Regions from separate parts of the Homo sapiens genome. Here region 2 is linked to region 1. Evidence: fine-mapped expression QTL. A gene starts in region 1. The other region holds a variant in brackets. All regions are shown on one strand. Distances are from middle to middle.

Region 1 (5,378 bases):
GAAAGGCATAAGTTTGATGGCCATGGGAGTTTTTACTTGTTAACACATAAGTAGAGGTTTGGTTCAATTATAGGCAATCTCTTCTCACACAATCATACAAAACTGCCCAGGATTAAACATCTACTATTGCTATAGACCAATATATCCTTTTATGTAATGTTAATGGAAAAGTCACCTCATTCTGATGTGTTTTGAGTTTGATCCTCTAAAACCATAAGAATCTTCCCATGAGAGATAGTTGAGAAAATGTTGGCCTTTATTAGTATGCACTATTAACACAGGTGTTCTGACTGCATTTTCCAACCCTCCCTCTATTTTATGCACCTCTCTACATGTGAGAACTTTTGACTAACTCTGAGTCCTGACCTGCCAGAGTGACTTTGTCAGTCTCTCTTTAAAAATGGGCAGGTGAATGAGTTCAGCCTAGAAGCAGCAGCTCGGTAAGGGAAATGAAAATATCAGAAGTTATCTAATCACAGCCATAGCCATGCTGAGCTTCATCTTATCTTTTGGTTAATAAAAAGAAATGGGACCTTCCGAAACTTGAAGGGCATCAAATTAAGTTTTTGCTTGCCTCTGGCTTTTTGGGGGATATGCTATGTGGTTTAACCAGCATATACTAACTACAAAAATTGACATGGATTCAAAACACCTGTGTCATAGGACGGTGGGTGTTTGTTTTTTTGTTTTGTTATAAAGCAGAAAATAAAACACAAAGGCCTTTGAGAACAGGGATTGTTAAGGGAATAGAAGAGTATGGAGAAAAGAACACTTTATTTGAAGTTAAGGTAATTGTGTACGCCTGTGTATGTGTGCGCGCGGGGGCGCGCGAATGAGCAGGATTTAGTTTCATTTAAAGATAACATATTAAAGTATCTTGGACAGCTCAAAAGTGCTGTTCAGGAAACAAAACCAAGTGAGCCAAGAAAAACCAGAACAGTGCTTTTAAAATCCCTGGCAAAGCAGCAAGAGGATGAAGAGTTGGTTTTGCATAGTTTTGAACACAGGGTGTAAAGGTGCTGAGGCATCTTTTCCCACAAGTCACTGAAATCCTGTGAGAGTGTGTGAGTGTGTGTGTGTGTCTGTGTGTGTGTGTGTGTGTGTGTAGAGGGAGAGGTTCTCAGATGTCTCTCTTGCAAAGCTTCCCAGAGCACTCTCGCTTCCCTAGCCCCCTCCCGCCTCACTCTGCTCACCTTTCCCCCCTCCACTTCCCAACCACCCACATCAAGCCCTTCATAGATTTGCGCCCCTTGGATCATCTCTGCCGCCTGTGACTTTCCCTGGAGCCTAGCAGGTTCTGGGGCTGAAAGGCAATCCGCCAAGGCGCCCTGGGGCGCCGTCAGATTTGGAACATAGAATGGGAAATAGGGCCTTAAAGCCCACCTACTCCAAGATGAAGGAGGAGCATTTTTCATCAGGGTTTAGCCTGCTCCTCACCGGATGGTAATCAGCACTCGCTTGACTTGGCGTGGACCACCTCCTAATTATCTCCATTGGATTCAGCCCTAACAGTTCTCGTGTGTCTGTGATACCACGCGGGGTCGTGATCTCCTTACTCAGCTGTGGCTTGGTTTCAGTGGTCCCTCCAGTCCCGTCCCCTGTCCCCGTCCCCCTTTCCTTCTGGCTACTTTATTCCATAGAGGAAGAAGCGCTGAAGGACTACGTTGAATCAAAGCACTTGCAAGCCTATTCATTAGTTTTTAACACTGAGAAGAGGCAACTAAAATATTATTAGAACCTCATTGTAAGAAGTGTGGGGGAGGAGGTTGAGAGGCTGAATCCAACCGCAGCCAGGTCAAGCCATTGGAAGGGACTACAATGTCCCACAGCTTTCTCACTGTCAGAGAGGAAGCTGCAACTTCAGCCAGAACTCCCTTCCCCTCCCCTTCCCCGATTTTGAAAACCGTACCCCTTCTTCCGCCTTCGGGACTTCCCTGACCTATCCCTCACCCGTGCCATGCTGTCCCCTCCCCTCCGCGGTCTTTCTCCCCAACTCCATTCGCCCCACCCCACCTGGGCGAGTTGGGTGGATGTCAGAAGGCGAGAGGTAGGGGATGGAAGTCCCTTCAGATTAAAGACGTTGCTTGCTGCTGCTTTTTAAAACAACAACAGCAATGACAAACGTGCAAAGGTGAGCGAGAACCAGTGCATCTCAAAAGTTGGTCTTGCTACGCAGCAGCTCCAACAGACTTTGCAATCACAGCGCCCCAGGAACACAGGAATGAAGAGTTGGCATTTACTTACCTGGGTGTGCCAATCTCGAAGAGTGGAGAGAGAATTCAGCCCGGGACGAGGTCTGTCCCGCCCCCAGGATGCAAAATCCGGCTTTGAAGTGGAGGTGGTTGGTGTGGTAGTTTTGTACTGATGTAAGGGGCGTCGCACCTCCTTCCCCTCTCGTCCTCCGAGGTCAGTTTAGCAACAGCGGCTGGGAAAGGTGCTGAGAGCAGAGTTCGGTCTCTCCGGAAACCCTGACTCCATTCTCGGTGATGGGGGTGGGGGAAGAGGGTGAAAATGTTGGAGATGTCAGGTCGGCTCTCAGTTAACTCGGAGAGTAAAGAGGAGGGTACTGAGAAAAGAGGGAGGGAGTGGAGTGGAGCGAGGGAGGAAGGAAAGGAGGGTGGCAGAAAGAGAAGGGGACGAGCGGGTGGCGGGGAGATGGCAGCTTCTCACAGAGAGATTTCCACCTTCTGACGAATCCCATGCACCCAGCAACCCGGCAAGAGACTGGTTCCGAAACCTCCGCGCGAGCGCCCCCTGGGGGTTGCTGACGGAGACGAGCATTGCCCCGGGAACCCGAGCTCAGGCCCCGCCCAGGCCTTGGCGGCGGCGCTCTCCGTGGTCCTGCCGCGCCCGCAGTCTGGGCTTTCTGCTCAGCTTTGTCGCTCAACTGAGCTCCTGGGGACACTTGATTTAGATCTCCAAGTGCTTGGTCTCCATCTCCACTCTAGGGTGGAGCGGTCGTATCGCGGCGCGGGTGTGGGGGGAATGGGAGTTACACTTTTTGGCACTCACCAAAGAAAACTTCTTAGATGGGTGCTTAACTGTCACCAAAAATGGTAAAGGTGTTGCTAATCTCTGGATCCTTCGTGTCTACAAAACTGTCTGGCGTATGGCAGGAGCCTGGAAATTATTTTTAGTAAGTAATGCATGAGTAAATTAATGGACAAAGAGTATTTTCTTCATCTCATGATGAGTTTCTGAATACATCTACCTCACAAATAAGATAAAGAAATACTTAGGGAGTACTTATGCTTAAAGATAGATATAAATATGCTGTCTTATGTAAGGGGTGACCACTTCCACATGTTTTAAAGCACTTTAGAGAGAAAGTATGGCCTTCCTATTTCAAACTTATTCAAATTCAGACAAATGAACTTATTCAAATACAGGGCATTGTTTCTGATTATGTCTGCTACCATAGACAAACTAGACAACTAAATTCTCTCTGCACATTGGTATTGTCAGACTCACAAATTGGACTTTGGAATTAATGAAGTAAAGTGAATGACGGTCTCTTTCTGACATTGGGATGGTATAGAGTGTGTTACATCTAACGTGGAGGGGAGATGGAAGGTCTTCCTTCTCACCCTATTAAGGGGCTATCTAACAAAGCCTCTCCAACCTGAAGGTTGGAGGAGATATTAGCCAAAATCTTTTCACTAACCATGAAGTTCTCAATTTCAAAGTCCAGAAAAGGAGAACCAATAGGGTAAGGAGGAAGACCCCCTCTTAATTGTTCTATAGAAGTAGACAGAAATATCTTTGATAAACAAAGGGACAACCTTCTGACAGAACACAAATAACATTTTTCTTCTTTCAGTCACCTCTAAAGCCTTTCTGAAATAGGATAACACTAAACATGGACCCTGGAAAGGACCTCAGGGAGCTTCTCTGTACACTGAAACTACCACAGAAATCCTTGGATTTGCTTTGATTGCAAAAACTTGGGTCACATGGCTATGCATAAGTCAATCGTTGTGACCTTTGGATATGGAATTACACTAATGGGCCAGGACTTCCACAATGTCTAGGAGCATGTGATGTCTTCTATAGCACTCCTGGAGCCAGGATGGAGCCCCACCTGATCTACACACATTGCGAGTGAGACACAGGGACAATTCTCCAAGGGATATTCAGGGTCCTCCTACCAGGAAAGGGGAGACGGATGCTAAGCAGGCAAAACCAGTGTATGACTACTAAATATGAAAATGTTAAGTCCAAAAACATTACTTCCAGGTTTTGTTAAGAGGTAGCCTCAGAGATAAACTCAAAATTTGAATTGGATTGAACTTGCAAAGATGAAGGAAGAAGAAGGAAAAGTCATTGTGCATTTCCTTGCATGTTAATTGTATCCTCTAAAATTTAATTTCTATGAAGGCAAGGGATATGTCTGTTTTGTCGTCTTGTTCATAATTATAACCCCAATGCCTAGAAAGGTGTCTACCACCTTCTACATTTATAAAATTAAAAATAATATAAATACCTTAGGGACCATTCAACATAAACTTCTTATATTACAGGTGAGAGAAAAGGAATTAAGATGTGCTGAGCATGTACTATTTCCAGGCAATCTGTTAGGCACTCTACTTACCATCCCATTTAATTTTTACAACAACCTGCCCAAGAAAGTTTTACTATATCTACAAAAATAAATCCAGGGTGTGGGCGGTTGAAATGACCAGACCAGGGAACACAACTAGTTAATGGGAGGATAGGGGTTGTTCATTGAAGCAGTCTCTAAAGGGGCAGCTAGAATAAGTGAACACATGGACCATAGAAAAGAAGTTATAGAGTCAATGCTCATAGGGAAAAAGAAAAACAACATAGTTATCTTTGGCCCTACATGTTAAAAGCATAGATACACAAACTAAACACAATGCCACAACTTGTGACAAATATGGTTTCCTTTGCCAGCAGGCTTCAGCTCCGTAATTAGAAACAAACAGTTGCCTGCATGCCAGTGCGCAGAAAACGTGCAGCTTTATGCCAGAAACTTGGAATTTTTTTCTGAAGGCATGACACTGAAGGTAAATTCAAAGAAGCTTTTTACAGGGCACATAAAGCAGAATTTACTTCCACCTCTTATATGAAATCAACAGCTCATCTGTACAAATGAAGATTTGTAACCAGCTAATAATCCATGTTTTCAATCACTGCCCCCACAGCAAGTTGCCCGCCAGCCACAGTCCCCTCAACAATTGTAACATCAAAATCCCCTTGTCTCTATCACTCACCTCCTCCCAGCTCTCCTTTTAATGGATTCTGAGCTGCTGGGTTCTACAGCCATGGTCAAATTTATCTAAAGCCAAGCCACAAAGTCACTGTGGCCCTGGTGTTCCCAAGTTGCAAAGGAAGCTTCAGCTCTGGGTAGATTCACT
Region 2 (5,378 bases), 250 kb after region 1:
TAGGCTATACATTGTTCTTCATATCAAAAATTCCAGGAACATGAAAGTAATGGGTGAGGCAGGTAGTCAGGAACAAAATGCCTTCCTTTTTTTTTTTTTTCCCCCACTTTTTAAAAGGCAAGGTCTTGCTATATTGCCCAGGCTGGTCTCCAACTCCTGGGCTCAAGTGATCCTCTTCTGCCTCAGTCTCCAGAGTAGCTGAGACTATAGGCATACACCACCATGCTTGGCTAATTTAAAAAAAAAAAAATTTAGGAACAGGGTCTTGCTATGTTGCCCAGGCTGGCCTCCAAATCTTGGGCTCAATCAATCCTCCTGGCTTGACCTACCAAAGCGCCAGTATTATGGGCATGAGCTGATGTGCCCACCTCTGTACTCTTTATTTATCATCATACAAAATTAATACTTGAATACACACACAACTTCAAATCTCCTCCATCCCCCTCCCAGTTTTCAGCTCCCTTTCTTAGCTAATTTTTCCCAAAGAGTTCTTGGTGGTTACTACTTTTACATCTTCAGCTCCCACTCCTTTTTCAATCAGTTGTGATTGTACTTCCATCTCCACCACTCCACAGGCACTGTTCCCATCAGACTCAACACGACCTCATCTTGCCAAATCCAGTGGTCACTTCTCTGTCTCTGTCTTTCTTCAGCAAACACTCAGGGCTTTCAAAAAAGCTGACCACTTCCTCATTGAAATACTCTCTCCACCAAGCTTCTGCAACACTACACTCTCCTGTTTCCCTTCTAAGTTCTGCCTTCATGTTTTCAGGCCCCTCCTCCTCTGTTTCAGCTCTAAATACCAGAGGACCAGAGAGCTGTGTTCCTGTTCCTTTTCTTTGTAATTTTTAAGTCATGTTACCAAACCAAACCAGGGTCTGCTCACTCAGTGCAGTAAAGCCAAACATCTACACCAAGGTTTTGCAGCAGGGGGGAAAAGAAGGCATTTATCTGCAGGGCACCAAGCAAGGAGAATCAGGCAGCTCACACTGTAAGAGCCAACCTTCGCAATAGCTTACAAGCAAGAGTTTTTAAAAGCAGGGATAAATTTCAGGGAAGTAGAAGTTACAGGCAGAATTTTAAGGCATATGTGGAGGTTATATATTGATTTGGCCTAAAAAGACAGTATATATTGAAGCAGGAACTTACAGGTCATTGGTGGATTCGAGGATTTTCTGATTCGCAATTGGTTAAGGAAGGGAAACTTTGTCTAAAAACTTGGGATCAGCAGAAAGGAATGTTAGGTCTGGCCCATGGGTATGACGTCCTTTAGGCTCCTAAGGAAGAAGTTTAGAAAAAAGAACGGCAGTCAGAGTTCAGTTCTCAATCGCCCCTTATCTGAGGTCTACATGCCAGTGGATCCATTTGGCTGGGGTCTGTGTTTCTGAAAAGTAGCTCAGGGACATATGTTGAGATGTTGTCTTTAGTTTCTATAGGGAACCAAACATCTCAGGACTCTAACTACCTTGGCTATTGTTTTCAGCTACTATTATCTTCTTGCTTATCAAGTTGCTTATTTACTTCTCAGGGCTAGTGAGGCGGCTAGTTCACTGCCTAGAATTTCCCCGGAAGGAACTCAATATTTTCCTCTATTTCCATGCTTGGCAAGGGGGGGAGGGGGGCCCTAAGAGGGATCCCTGCTCCGTTTCTGTCATGTGACCTTAGACGAGCAACTTAATCTTTCTGAGCCTTAATTTCCTCAACTATAAAATGAGAGTTAATAATAGTACCTTTCTCATATAATTATATCAAAGTCAAAATAAACATGTAGAGATGAATCCATAAATTTAATATTTTATTTGGGAAGAAAGAATTGCAATTTGGGCCATACATACAGACCTGGTGGTCTTCGGGTATGTCCGAATAGCAAAGAACGGCTTAGCAGTTTTGAAACGAGAAAAGTTCCCTTATTCCCCTCGCAGGGCGTGTGACGGGGGTGTGGCGCGCTTCTTCAGTGCCCCGCTGCTCACACCTCTAGGGGGAGCATACAGACAGACGGTCGGGTTGTGAGGCTCCGACCCCATAGCAGTGTCTAGGGGTTAATGTTTACAGCTGAAGCCCCAGTGGGCCTGTGTTACAGGGTGCTCTTTCAGTTTAGCCGTCCGTAGGCGGCTTGTGCTAGTCAGCTCAATCAGACACCCTGCCTTATCGCAGGGACAGAGGGCTTTCTGTATCATGGGGTTTCTTGCCCTGGTGTACCAGAAGAATCAGATCACACGTAGGCTTGGAGAATGAGTGCAAGGTTTATTGAGTGGAAGTAGCTCTCAGTAGATGGGGGAGCCAGAAGGGAGATGGAATGGAAGGTTGCTTTCCCCTGGAGCCAGGCCGCCCAGCAGCGGGGCTTACCTTATACCGCCCTGGCCAAAGTCCGTGTCCTTCCGCGGGTTGATGGCCTGCCGCCCTGCTGGCCTACCGGCGTCTGTCAGTATGTTCTTAGGCCAGTGCGTTCCTCTCAACGGCTAGGTGCTTGTGTCTTTTTCCACTGCTGTGATCCTCTCAATGTCCAGCCGCTGGTGTGTCTGCCC[A/G]CTAGGGTCTCAGGGTTTTTATAGGCACAGGATGGGGGGATGGGGGCATGGTGGGCCAGGGTGGTCTTGGGAAATGTAACATTTGGACCTGAAAACAAATGCCTGTCCTCACCTAGGTCCGTGGGCACAGGCCTGGGGGTGGAGCCCTCGCCAGGGACCCGCCCTTCTCCGCCCAGCACTTCCCTGCCCTATTCCGATATCAGTTTTATAAAAAAGGAGAAATGTTATGTATTCTTCTTTGAGAAAGTTCATTGGCATAAGAAAGAATTTAGGGAGTCAGAAAGCTTCAACTGGTGAATGGTGGCTGTGGGCACAATTAGTGCTAGCCTTTGCAGCACGTTATCTCAGAAGATGAGATAAAACTGGTTTCAGGTTACAACAAGCAGTTTGGGCTTGCAGAGAATTACATTCTTTCAGCAATGTTGTACCCTGCGTGCTTGTTCCCCCTGGCTTCTCAACTCTGTTTTAGTTGTGAGTGACAAGAATGACCCAATTCTTATGATCAACTTTCATGATTGTTATGAGAATTAAACGAATTAACACCTGTAAAGCATTTGAAACAGAACCAGCCAGGTAATGAGTCAGTGCTTCTCAAATTTTAAGGCATATTAGAATCACTTGTGGCTTTTAAAAATCTTGATATCCAGCCCATATACCATAGCAATTAAATTAAAATCTCCAAAAAATTCTCTAATAACTAATTAGGCACAGGGTTTTATTGTTGTTATTTTGTTTTGAGACAGGCTCTTGCCCTATCAGCCAGGCTGGAGTGCAGTGGCATTGTCAGAGGCCTTTGAACCAGAGCAACTCCATCTTGAAAAGGGGCTGGGTAAAATAAGGCTGAGACCTACTGGGCTGCGTTCCCAGGAGATTAGGCATTCTAAGTCACAGGATCAGATAAAAGGTTGGCACAAAGTACAGGTCACAAAGACATGTACATTAATTATATGCACTAACTATAATGCATTATCATGCTAAAAGATATGCCCAGCAGTGCCATGACAGTCTATAAATGCCATGGCAATTTCAAGAAGTTACCCTATATGGTCTAAAAAGGGGAGGAATTGTCAGTTCTAGGAATTGCCCACCCCTTTTCTGGAAAACTCATGAATAATTCGCCCCTCGTTTAGCATATAATCAATAAACATAAAAATCGGCAACCAGCAGCCCTTGGGGCTGCTGTGCCTATGGAGTAGCCATTCTTTTGCTTCTTTACTTTCTCAATAAACTTGTTTTCACTTTATGGATATGCCTCAAATTCTTGCGTGAGATCCAAGAACAGCACAATCATGGCTCACTGCAGCCATCTTGGGTTCAAGCCATCCTCCCACCTCAGCCTCCTGAGTAGCTGGGACTATAGATAGGGGAAAGTCACCACACCCAGCTACCTTTGTTTATTTTTTGTAGAGATGGGGCTTCCACCATGTTGCCCAGGCTGATCTTGAACTTCTGGGCTGAAGCTATCCTCACACCTCAGCCTTCCTAAGTGCTAACATTACAGGCATGAGCTACTGCACGCAGCCTATTTTTTTAATTCTAAGGTAACTTCAGTGTGAGGCTAAGGTTGAGAACCAGGATAGTAAGAGATATAAAAGTATGTCTTAAATGAATAAGATAAACCTGTGTCTCTCTGAAGCTTCATCATCTGTGTCTGACACTTTTGTTGCCATTCACCCAATTTCTGAAGCCCAATGCCTAGGAGTGCCCCTTGATTCTCCCGTTAGCCTTAAATAATGAGGACCAGAAAAATTAAGTATAGAGTTTATAGGAGTCCAAAGCTTGAGGATGGCCACATGGGGGCATAGATTCAAGTTGCCATAAATATACACCCTGATTAGTAGCAGTTACTAGTTGAAGTTTTAAGGAGTAAAAGAAGAGGCAGTTCCTAAGTTGTTTACCAAGAATTTACATTAAAATAACATAAGCTAATGATTGGCTATATATTGTTCTTTGTATCACAAAAACAGGAAGAAAATGGATGTAGCAGCTAGTCAAGAACAAAATACCTTTAAACAATTGTCCCAGACATAGCGGAGAAGGTGACTGAAGTCCCATACTCATGTTTCTCTGAGCCTGATAAATTCTGCATATCTCACATAGCTCAGACTGCTCTGAGCTATTTTCCTTTTTTCCTTTTCTCACCCTTCTCCCTCACATCTCATATCCAATACTAGTATGTATTTTTCTCGTCCATTCACTTCTTTTGACTTCCCCAAATCCACCCTGATCCAAGCTACAATCATCTGTTTCCTGGGCCACTACAGTAGCCTCCTGGCTGTTCTCATTCCCTTTTTTGCTTCTCCATAATTCATTCTTCACAAGCAGCCACAGAATTTTTAATGCATATCACTCCCCTGATTAGAACTCCCCATTTGGCTTCCCATTGCATTTTGAATAAATCCAAACTCCTCACCATGGCCTCAACAAGATCCTGGGTGATTCAACACCTTCCTACCTCTCTGACCTTGTCTGCTCCTGCCCTTTCCCATTTTTACAATTCTTCAGTCACTCTGGCCTTTTTTCTTTCCTCTGAGACCACAATCTCACTCCCTGCCTCAGGGTTTTTACACTTCCTGGGATGCTCTGATGGCTCTCCCCTTTCCTGCATTCAAGTCTCACCTCAAATGTCACCTCATAGAAACCCTCTCTGACCACTCATCTAAAGTATCCCCCACCTCAAGTCACTCACAGTCATGTCACCTTATTTTATTGTCTTCACTGTAGTTCTCACTGTTACAGGACCAATGGGTTTGTATGTCCGCTGTGCAGTATCAGACTGATAGGCTGAGACAACAGGGTTTGCAGCAGAGAAAGAGTTTAATGATTGCAGAGTGGTCAAGTGAAAAGATAGGA

What was found.
Region 2: its variant is fine-mapped to the expression of CPNE4 in lung (TOPMed, PIP 0.91).

What each region holds. Positions count from the first base shown.
Region 1 is chr3:132,032,323-132,037,700 of GRCh38, forward strand. It overlaps CPNE4 (copine 4), which reads right to left and starts at 2,692. Exons shown (of 16, transcript NM_130808.3): 1 at 2,245-2,692. RefSeq lists an enhancer at 2,272-2,441 and a silencer at 2,817-2,916.
Region 2 is chr3:132,282,894-132,288,271 of GRCh38, forward strand. No RefSeq gene overlaps it. Among named protein-coding and RNA genes, the nearest start is that of ACP3, 32 kb to the right of the region's middle. The variant A/G (reference allele first, on the strand shown) is at 2,526.